3 linked regions of the Homo sapiens genome follow. The protein of the gene in region 1 purifies or fractionates together with the protein of each later gene. This does not show direct contact. Each region holds a gene or a part of one and is shown in the gene's direction. Other genes may lie near its edges.

The links.
Region 2: the proteins of IFFO2 (region 1) and IFT57 purify together in Homo sapiens (co-immunoprecipitation; one large-scale study listed by IntAct). This does not show direct contact.
Region 3: the proteins of IFFO2 (region 1) and SCCPDH purify together in Homo sapiens (co-immunoprecipitation; one large-scale study listed by IntAct). This does not show direct contact.

What each region holds. Positions count from the first base shown.
Region 1 is NC_000001.11:18,918,586-18,922,241, reverse strand, and holds part of IFFO2 (intermediate filament family orphan 2), read left to right. Parts: intron 1-1,120; coding exon 1,121-1,181; intron 1,182-2,468; coding exon 2,469-2,564; intron 2,565-3,656.
Region 2 is NC_000003.12:108,194,895-108,198,550, reverse strand, and holds part of IFT57 (intraflagellar transport protein 57 homolog), read left to right. Parts: intron 1-3,656. UniProt on the Homo sapiens protein: Required for the formation of cilia. Plays an indirect role in sonic hedgehog signaling, cilia being required for all activity of the hedgehog pathway.
Region 3 is NC_000001.11:246,762,389-246,765,658, forward strand, and holds part of SCCPDH (saccharopine dehydrogenase-like oxidoreductase), read left to right. Parts: intron 1-1,857; coding exon 1,858-1,969; intron 1,970-3,270.

The sequences.
Region 1 (3,656 bases):
GTTGGAGGAGCTGGGTTAGGGCCTTTAGGCTTTGACAGTTCCTGGGTCTATGAGGAGCTCCGCAAGGGGATTCTGAGCAACCAGTCTGGAGCGTCCCCACCTGGGTTTCAGTCCTAGTTCCACACTATCTCACCCTGGCCTTGGGTTCAGCTTGTGCCTCTGGGCCTTGCTTTCTGCACCTGGGGATAATGACGGTGCCTACGTCATAGGTTGTTACGAGGATTGAATTAACTTCATGTAGAACAGTGCCTGGTACAAAGTAAGTCCCAGTGAAGGTGGTTCTGGAATTGGTAATATCATCCAGTCCCAGGGAACTGCTCCCACCCCTTCCTGCAGTTAAGGGCGGGGGTCCACTGAACCCTCCTTTGCCTTCTCCCCTCCCGCCCGCGTTTCCTATTCAGCTTCGGGCAGTACTCGTGTCAAAGTAGTGGTGTGGAAGCCCTTGGAACAACAGGGCTTGGCACATAGTAAACGCTAAATCAGTGGGAACTGTATTTATTGAGTTTTGTTTCAATGTAATAAAACAGCCCCACCTGCTGACTCGCTGTGTGTCTTTGGGTTAGATGTTTATTTAACCTCTCCGAGCCTCAGTTTCCACTTCTGTAAAATGGAATGATAACACCTACGTAGGAGAGATCTGTGTTGGTTTGGGTAGGCTGTCGGGCATCGCAATGCTTAGCACAATAAAAGTTTGTTTCTTGTGGGTGCAAAGAACAGCCTGAGAGTGGAGCTGGCTGCAGCCTGGCTCCTAAGGACTGGCTTTGCTACTGCATCTTGCAGCAACAACAGGAGCAGCAGTGCTTGCACAGCACTTTACAGTTTGCATGCAGGCAGGGTGGTGGTCCCTCCCACCTCTGTCTTCACGAAGTGCTGGGCTCATACCTTAACGTGGCACTTGTCACCACCACCTGATACTCTGGTTATATGTCAGCCTGGCTGTCCTCTCACACCACCTCCCCTAGGCTGGGAGCTCCCAGAGGGCAGGCAGGGATGGATGCCCCAATGCACCTTCCTTGCCCAGCTCAAGATAGTCCCTGGGTGGGTGTTGGGGTTGTGTCTGAGGGCTGGACTGGCACAGGGAACTCACCTTCTGACCACCTGTTCCTCTTGGCTTTTGCAGGTGGGAGGAGGAGCTCGCCAAGCGCATGAACCTTCAGACCATGGTGGACACGCTGCAGGAGGTAAGAGCCCTCCGATATCCCGACCAGGAGAGGCACGCCAGAGAGCCATGTGGCCAAGGGGCACAGTCTTCATGCGGCAAAGCCAGGAAATTCTTGCACAGCCCCTACTCTGTTACCTCCTACCACCTCAGTCTCTCCTTTATGGAGCCAAGAGATCCCTTCCACTTCCTCTGCTTGGAAGCTAGGAATGGACCAGCACAGTGTTGCACAAGAGCTCTGATGCAGGGGTTGAGAAGCCTGGGTCCAGGTCCCGGGGTGCAAGTCCCAGCTGCTGTATGACCTGGGACCAGCGACCCTTCTCACCCGTCACTGTCTCCCCACCTGAGGCTTGGACTAGGTGGTTTGTAAGCCCCCAAGCAAGAAGGGTGCCCTCGGTTGGGGCTGAAGGCCTTGGAGAGGGCAGGTGGGCACGTCGCAGGTGGGCTCCCAGCCTGAGCAGGCTCTCTGTGGTGGGCATTTGGGAACATTCCCCTTGCTGCTCTAGCTGGAATCTCTGCATTCTGGGCTCTGCAACTCCCCCACCTGCGGTGTAACCTGGGCAGCAAACTTCATCTTCTCAGCCTCTATTTTCCTCTCTGACAAGTGGGAGCAAGAGTAGCAACCCCATGAGAAGGCATGAAAAGTTCTTCCAAAAATGTCTAGAAATTGCGTTCTGATACTGAAAGCATTTGTCGTCTAAGACAGTTAGAGACAGATTAAGATAATTGTCAATGCGTAGAAGGAAAAGGTTGAATATCTCCCTTTCTTTTATAATGAAAGGGCTTTTTTCTTTATAAATTTAACGGGTTCATCGTCAAATATGTGGAAACTATAGAAAAGCCCAAAAATAAAAATTATTTCCAGTTCCTCCTTCCACAGTTGAAAAACTGGCGTGTGACCTTCCGATCTTGTCTGTGTGGACACACACCCACGCTCTTCAGACGCATGTTAGGTCGACACACATGACATTGTCATTTTTGAAAGCAGAGATGGCCCAATACTGGCAGTTTCACACGGATTGATCTCATATTTTTAACGTAATAGGATTGCTTGTTAATTAACCTGCTCTTTTAATACCTTCCATGGATTTTCCCACGTAATAGATAACGCTTTGAAAAGTGTTTTAAGCAGTCAACAGTGTTCAGTGGGAAGTCAGGCTGGGATGAGGTCCTTGGTGCCCCTTCCCTGGCTGCAGGTGCCCAGCTGGGGTGGACATCGGGTGCCTAGGGCTCTGGACTCAGGTGTCCAGACCCTCCTATCCCCAGAGGACCCGGCCCCTCTGAAGCCTCCCCATCTCCGTCCCCGCAGGCAGCACAGGAGGCTGATGCCATCCAGGAGGAGATGAATGAGAAGATCGAGCGGCTCAAGGCCGAGCTGGTGGTGTTTAAGGGGCTTATGAGTGACGTAAGTGCCGCCCGCCGCCCCTGGGTGTCATGACCTCCCCCACACCCATCATGCAAAATGCTTCATTCCCTCCGAGGCTCCGGGGCTCGGCTTCTAGTTAGAATCCTGGCTGGCTGTGTTTGACCATGAGGATGACGGATGCATTGGATGCATCGGAGACCAGGCACCCTCCTCCCGCCCCCTCCCCACTTCTGCTTCCCTCGGTCTGAGTAGAGATGCATTAATCTGCCGCTTAACCTATCCCGCCCTCCCCCGGGCTCCCCTGATGGTCTGTGTGTGTTTGCTCCCACTCCTTCCCAGCTCGCCTTGATGAGGGCAGGCCTCGGTGTCTGGGCGTAGCAGGGCGTCTGGCAGGTTGGGCCAGGTGCCGTCTGGTCTGTGCGGGCCTGAGAGACTCGCAGGCCCAGCGGCCTTTGGCAGGGTTGCTCCATGAGGTCAGGAAAGGCCAGTGCGCGTGTCTTTTTGACAATCTGGGGCCCCTCTAAGTATCTGTGGGTGGGGGGAGCTGTTGGCAGCAAAGGGCTCCTTGCTGCTGGGGACCCAGGTCTCCTCCCCTTCAAACAGTGGGCAGTACAGGGGGAGACCCCACCAGAAGGCAGAAGGGGCCAGAACGTGGGTGACTGAGCCTGGCATGGCTCCTGGTGTGGAGGGACGTGAAGCTGGGTGTGGTTGGTAGAAGCCTCCCAGGACCCTAGTTGGAGGCCACTGGGCTCCCTCTCACTTGTGTCCAAGGGGATCAACCCTGTGGTCCTCAGTGACTCCCACTGCCGGCCTTGGGAGGCATCCAGGAGAGAGAGCTGCCTGTGTGGGGGACAGGTGGGGTGTGCCGGTGGGAAAAGAAGGGCTGTCTTTCTCCAGCGGGAGTTGTCTTTTTTCTTCGCTCTAACAAAGTGAACACGGACCCTGTGTCTGCTGGGAGGATGCCTTCCAGCCCTTAGGGAGAGCAGCACACACGGCGTCACACTGGCCCCTGACTCCCAAGGCCCCAACCCCATCCCACCCTGACCAGTGCCGCCGCAGCCCTCCACTCCACGGAAAAGCCCAAGGCACCCTCGGACTCTGGAGGCCTCCCCGCACCACCCCTGCTGACAC
Region 2 (3,656 bases), on another chromosome or scaffold:
AGAATCACTTAAACCCTGGAGGCGGAGGCTGCAGTGAGCCGAGATCATGCCACTGCACTCCAACCTGGGTGACAGAGCGAGACCCTGTCTCAAAACAAAACAAAACAAGACACACACACGCACACACCAAACATGAGGAGTGACAAGTGTTATAGTTTGAAGTAGGCATAATTAAGCATGACAAGAAAATCAAAAACATAAAATACAAATCTGAATGCATAAAAATTAAAACTTTATATTACAAGAAAGCAGAGTGGGGAACACCGTTAAGTTAAAATACAAGTGATGAACTGGAGAAAAATAATTATAGCCTATGTGCAAAGGGTTGATAGACATGTGCTAAGGTGTTTTAGAGCTTGTGCTCTAGAGTAACACTGCCTGACCTACCAATCACAAGATGTGACATTGAAAAAGTCATGTAACTATTCTGTGCCTCAGTTTCCTCACTTTAAAAGATGGTAATAAGACTCCCTGTTTCATGGTGTTATTATTGGGCATTTAACCCATATGTAAAAGCATCTAGTACCGTGTTTGGCATGTAATAGTAATGATAATAACTGCTAAAATATACCAGGGGTTAATATGTATTATACACTGTGCAAGCCTTTTAAATACATTGTCTCATTTAATGCTCACAGCAACCCTTCCAATGAGGAAGGTGCTGTTATTCTCATTTTACAGATGGGTACTCCGAGATTTAGAGAGGTTATGTAACTTGACCAACAGCTAGTAAGTCATGGAGGTGGGATTTGAGCAAAGATGTGATTCCAGACCCATCCTCTTAACATTTACACCATGCTGTTGTGACTCTTAAGACAACTTAGTTCCCTTTTCCTTGAGTCTTGGGAGTATTTAATCTTGAGAGTTAATTGGACTTTTAACACCCTCTCAGTAGGTATATGATATAAGCTCTTCAAATGAATCTGGACACTAGTATATCCATGAAGTTGCCATCTCATGTATATTTTTACAGAACATAGCCTTTCTTTGATGCTTGACCAAAGATTACTGGAACAGGATTCTAAGTAGGCTTTTAACACTGTATGTTTGATTCTTGAACTGACTTCGATGGTGTGCCCCACTGTTTGAGCCCAAGGTTACTTTATGGGATAGTGTAGACTGTTATTTTCAGTTCTTCCTTTGGCAGTTAGGATCAGTTCCCATCTCATCAGTTTCTCCTTTTACCTAGGACCAATTATTACTCCCATTAACTGGCCTCAGACTTTTCCTAGTAGTCTGCAAACTCTGCAGGCAGCATTTAAATCCTTTTAGCTTTCCACACCAAGCACAGTGCCTGAATTCTTACCTTGAATGTTGTAGGAGTTTAACAAATGGCTTATTAATTTAATTAATTATAAATGAGACTTCTAGATAACTTGTGTCTTATGAGCTTCTAATTGTTTCTTCTGCAGCAGTAACTGGAAAATGGAATTTCCCAAAAGCAATGCTTTATATTAGTTAATGTGTTAGAGAGGGACTTTGTCATGATGATATAAAATTTTGATTAAATGAAAAGCAGTTTATTTCTCTTGTACAAGTGACCCACATAAAGTACCATTTATGAAATGGAAAAACAATTGGGAAGAAAAATTTTCTCAAAGTATTATAACCAAGGCACAGTATAGTTTTAAAATGATTTATACTTTATATATAGGGCTTGCTCAGTTAATGTATCAAGTTATTAGGCATTAAGAAATGTTGAGTGAGGAATGAGGTTATGAAATAGATATGCAAACATGGATGTAGAAAGAAACTGTATAGTTTGAATAAGTTAATGCTGCTCTGCCAAACCTAATGTTCTCTTTTTGCCCTTTATTCACTTAGCAACTGGGCCATTTCCCCTAGTATATTAATTATGGCCTACGAGTGAGTGAAAATTTTTGAGCTCCTATGTTAAATCATTTTAGAACATTGGGAGTGGGAGTTAGCAAATCGTTGCTTAAGGGAACCAAATAATAAGCTAGTAAAGGTAAATGCAACTTACTAAAGGGCCCAACATAAAAACAAATAGCTTATGCAGTGGCATATCTTAATGCAGTGTTTGATCTTTATGTACCCTGCTGCCTCAGATTCTAGGTCTAGTTCAAATGGCCACTGCAAACCCATCTGCCTTTATGAAAAATGCCCTTCCTTCAGTAAAACATTTTGAGTATGTTATTCACAACTTGAACAATCCTACATCCAGGCCTGAAGAAAGTGGTAGTATGGACGGGTGTGCGCCCTTGTCTTGTTTGGTGATTCTGAACTTCAATCTTGTAAGGAGGGAAAGAAAGAGGGGTTGGAAATGAGGGTGGAAATGAGGGTTGGAGAGCACTGGCTTTGGGATTTAATCAACAGCATCTAGCTTCAGTTCACCCAAATGGTACTCCATAAATCAAACTTATTTTTATATATTTTTTATTTTTTTATCTTTAGTTATTATGAACACATAGTGCATATTTATGGGGTGTATGTGATATTTTGATACAAGGCATACAATGCGTAATGATCAGATCAGGGTAATTGGGCTATCAATCACCTCAAGCATTTATCATTTCTTTGTGTTAAGAACATTCCCGTTCCACATTTTTAGGTATTTTGAAATATATAATACATTACCGTTAATTATAGTTGCCCTATTGTGCTACCGAACACTAGGTCTTATTTTTTCTATATAACTAATGCAGTTTTAAATAACTATATTTTCATACCCAATAACCATTCACTTTTTATCCCTCCTCCCCGCTACCATTCTCAATCTCTGGTAACCATCATTCTACTCTCTACCTCCATGAAATCTACTTATTTTTACCTCCCACATATGAGTGAGAACATGTGATATTTGTCTTACTGTTCCTGGCATATTTCATTTAACATAATGACCTCCAATTCCATCCATGTTGCTACAAATGACAAAATTTCATTCTTTTTATGGCTAAATAATATCCCATTGTGTATATATACCTTGTTTTCTTTATCCATTCATCCCTTGATCAACACTTAGGTTGATTCCCTATCTCGGCTATTGTGGATAGTGCTGCAGTAAACATGCGAATGCAGATTTCTCTTTAACATACTGATTTCCTTCCTTTTGGGTATATGCTCCGCAGCAGCATTGCTAGATTATATGATAGATTTTTAGTTTTTTGAGGAACCTCCAAAGTGTTCTCCATAGTGACTGTATTAATTTACTTTCCCACCAACACTATACAAGTGTTCCCCTTTCTCCATATCCTTGCCAGCATTTGTTATTGCCTGTCTTTTTGATAAAACCATTTTAACTGAGGTAAAATGGTATCTTGTGGTTTTGGTTCGCATTTCTCTGGTGATTAGTAATGATTAGTGATCATTTTTTCGTATAATTGCTGGCCATTTGTATGACTTGTTTTGAGAAATGTCTCTTTTTGATCTTTTGCCTATTTTTTAATTAGATCATTTGGGTTTTTTTCCTACTGAGTTGTTTGAACTTCTTATATATTCTGATTGTTAATCCCCTTTCAGATGGGTAGTTTGCAAATATTTTCTCCCATTCTGTGGGTTGTCTCTTCATTTTGTTGATTGCTTCCTTTTCTGTGCAGAAGCTTTTTAGCTTGACATGATCCCATTTGTCCATTTTTGCTTTGTCTATCTGTGCTTTTGAGGTCTTACTTAAGAAATCTTTGCCCAGACCAATGTTC
Region 3 (3,270 bases), about 230 Mb from region 1:
TGAACTTTTCGTAGCATTCCTACGGTTTCTTTCTAATCTGTCTTCCCACTGCTGTCCAAGAGATCTTTCTAAGACACAAAATCTGACCTTGTCATTGCCTTCTTTATAAAATGTTCCTGGCCCACTGCTTTGGCAGTGATTCTTAACTGAGATTTCATATATCAGAATCATGGCCGGGCGCAGTGGCTCACACCTGTAATCCCAGCACTTTGGGAGGCTGAGGGAGGTGGATCACTTAAGGTCAGGAGTTCAAGACCAGCCTGGCCAACAGGTGAAACTTCATCTCTACTAAAAATACAGAAATTAGCTGGACATGGTGGTGCACGCCTGTAGTCCCAGCTACTCAGGAGGCTGAGGCAGGAGAATTGCTTGAACTCAGGAGGTGGAGCTTGCAGTGAGCTGAGATCACACCACTGCACTCCAGCCTGGGCAACACAGCGAGATTCCTTCTCCAAAAAAAAAAAAAAAAAAAAAGAATCACCTAGGAAGCTTTTTTCACTGACACATGCCCTCATCTTGCTTCTGGACGTTCTGATTCAGTAGGTCTGGAGTGGGGCCTGAAAGCATAGAGCAGTGGTTCCCAACTTTGGAAGAGAACCCAAAACAGATGACCAGAGACTCTGGTTCGGTTGGTCTGGAATGCAGCCTGGGCACTGGGGCTCTCTAAATCTGCCCAGTGATGCTAATGTGCTGCCAGGGTTGAGAATCACCACTGCGGAGGAAGGAAGAAGGTTCCAGATTTGAGTGGTTTTGGTACCCACCCCTGGAGCACAAATGGCCGAAAGTCCATCTTCAGAGATGTGAGGCCATCCTAGACCCTTCATGATCTAGTTCTGGATAGCACATAGGATTCATTTTTCATCCAACTTTGATTAATTGATAGTAGCCACCCAGAGACTATGCTGGGTCGGACAATGTGTGTAGCCTGAGAGAGGATTAGAACCCATTAGTGTGGGCGCCATAGCAGGAGATGGGACAGGTGTGGCATGTGTGTCTGACCTTGTCTGTACCTCTTGAATTGTATGTTCTGGAAAGGCTATGCTACTGCATCCCTTCTTCCCTTTAAATAATGGGTTCTCCTTTCTGGAATCCATCTACTTTTGGGGTTTTAAAACAACCATTAAAATGTGTTTGTGTGTGTGTATATATACAGTTCAGAACCATTGCCCTCTGCCCTGGTAGATTAATAACACCCTCCTCTGAGTTATGCCTGTATGTTTTAGTTCATGTCACATTGTTATTTAATCTGTTTATCTCTCTCTCCCCCCCTTTCCTCCTACTAAACTGTAAGCTCCAGCAAAGGCAGTAATTATGTCTCAGGGCCTCAATGGTATCTGACCCTTAGTTGATACTTCATAAAAATGTGTTGATCATGATTGAATTCTTTATCACCTCATTCCTAAATTTAGTGATTGTGAAAGATGCTAGGATAAGTCCTCAAGAATTTAGTTTTTTGAGTCGAATTTTTACATCTTTAAGTGGAACAATTATATACCTATACTCCAGGCCCATATTTCCATTACTTGCTGGCTATTTTTGTCTTGTCGCCTCAAATAGGTATCTAAAACCAGATTTCTATATTCTGCCCCCCGATAAAAACTATCTCCAGATCATCTTTATTTCCTCCCTATTTCTTACCACTCCCCTTCCCCCCAACATCACGCCAGTCTTCAAAACTGACAGCTTCAAAGAATTAGTTTTCGCTCCCTGCTTAAATGATGACGGGATATTCTGGCAGATAAAATAATGTTTTCATCTATTGACAATGTCTCACTTGAAATAGAATAGTCGGTTTTACTATGTTCCAGGAGGAAATGACGTATTTATGAAATGCGCCCTTTGCCTTCTCCTTCACAGATTGATGCTGCCTCATTCACGCTGACATTCTTTGGTCAAGGATACAGCCAAGGCACTGGTACAGATAAGAACAAACCAAATATCAAAATTTGTACTCAGGTGAAAGGACCAGGTATTTCACATATCACTTAAGAATGCTTGGGAATTTTATACTCTTAAGCTATAAAGTACAATGCCATTACAATATATTCTTTTTAAAGCTTAATTGTTTTAGAAATACATTTGTACAAATTAAGTAACTTAAAATTATTCTGTCAAAGGAAGATTGAAATTATTGATATAATCCAATTTTATTAGTGCATCCCTCCCTCTGGCTGTTTTTGGAGTATGATTCAGTAATTCAGAATGGCAAATTTTAATTAGTATTAATAGGAAAAGGGATTGGTTGATATTCACCTGTTTGAATCTCATATGCAAGTAGTGTAATTATAATGTCAGTCAAATCTGTGCTCTAGGATTTCTTTAGAGTCTCTGAACACCCTGACATTGTTTGTAAAATATGTATGCACACGTGCACTTTTCAAGGGAAGGGAATGGCTTCTGATAGGTTGTTAAAAGAATGTTGCCCAAAACGTTCAAGAACTTTTGCTGTACATTTTACAGAACTATGCAGAGACAGACAGGTCCACTTGTGAACTGTGGTATAATTACTGTCAGAGACAGACAGGTCCACTTGTGAACTGTGGTATAATTACTGTCAGAGACAGACAGGTCCACTTGTGAACTGTAGTATAATTACTGTCAGAGACAGACAGGTCCACTTGTGAACTGTGGTATAATTACTGTCAGAGACAGACAGGTCCACTTGTGAACTGTGGTATAATTACTGTCAGAGACAGACAGGTCCACTTGTGAACTGTGGTATAATTACTGTCAGAGACAGACAGGTCCACTTGTGAACTGTGGTATAATTACTGTCAGAGACAGACAGGTCCACTTGTGAACTGTGGTATAATTACTGTCAGAGACAGACAGGTCCACTTGTGAACTGTAGTATAATTACTGTCAGCCCTTTTAGGTCACAGGCTATAATTTTTTATTGAGACGGGGTCTCACTATGTTGCCTAGGCTGGGCTCAAGCAGTCCTCCTGCCTCAGCCTTCTAAAGGGTTGGGATTACAGGCATGAATTGCCATGCCTGGCCCACGGGGGATTTTAATCAAGCCAGATGATAGTATGTTTCCATCTTGCCCTTTTCTGAAATTCCCACCTGACTTTTTAAGGTAAGTTGACTGTATTTTCATTATTTGACAGGATTATAAATGCTAATGTTCCGTTTGTTTATAAACATTTTTTTAACTTATGTTTAGTCGTTATTCTTTAAGAAAAAATTGAGAGGATTTTTTTGTTGTTTTTAAGTGAAGTGTGTGAATACAGATAGGGATCGGCTCAGTGTACAATAGAGAAACAAAAA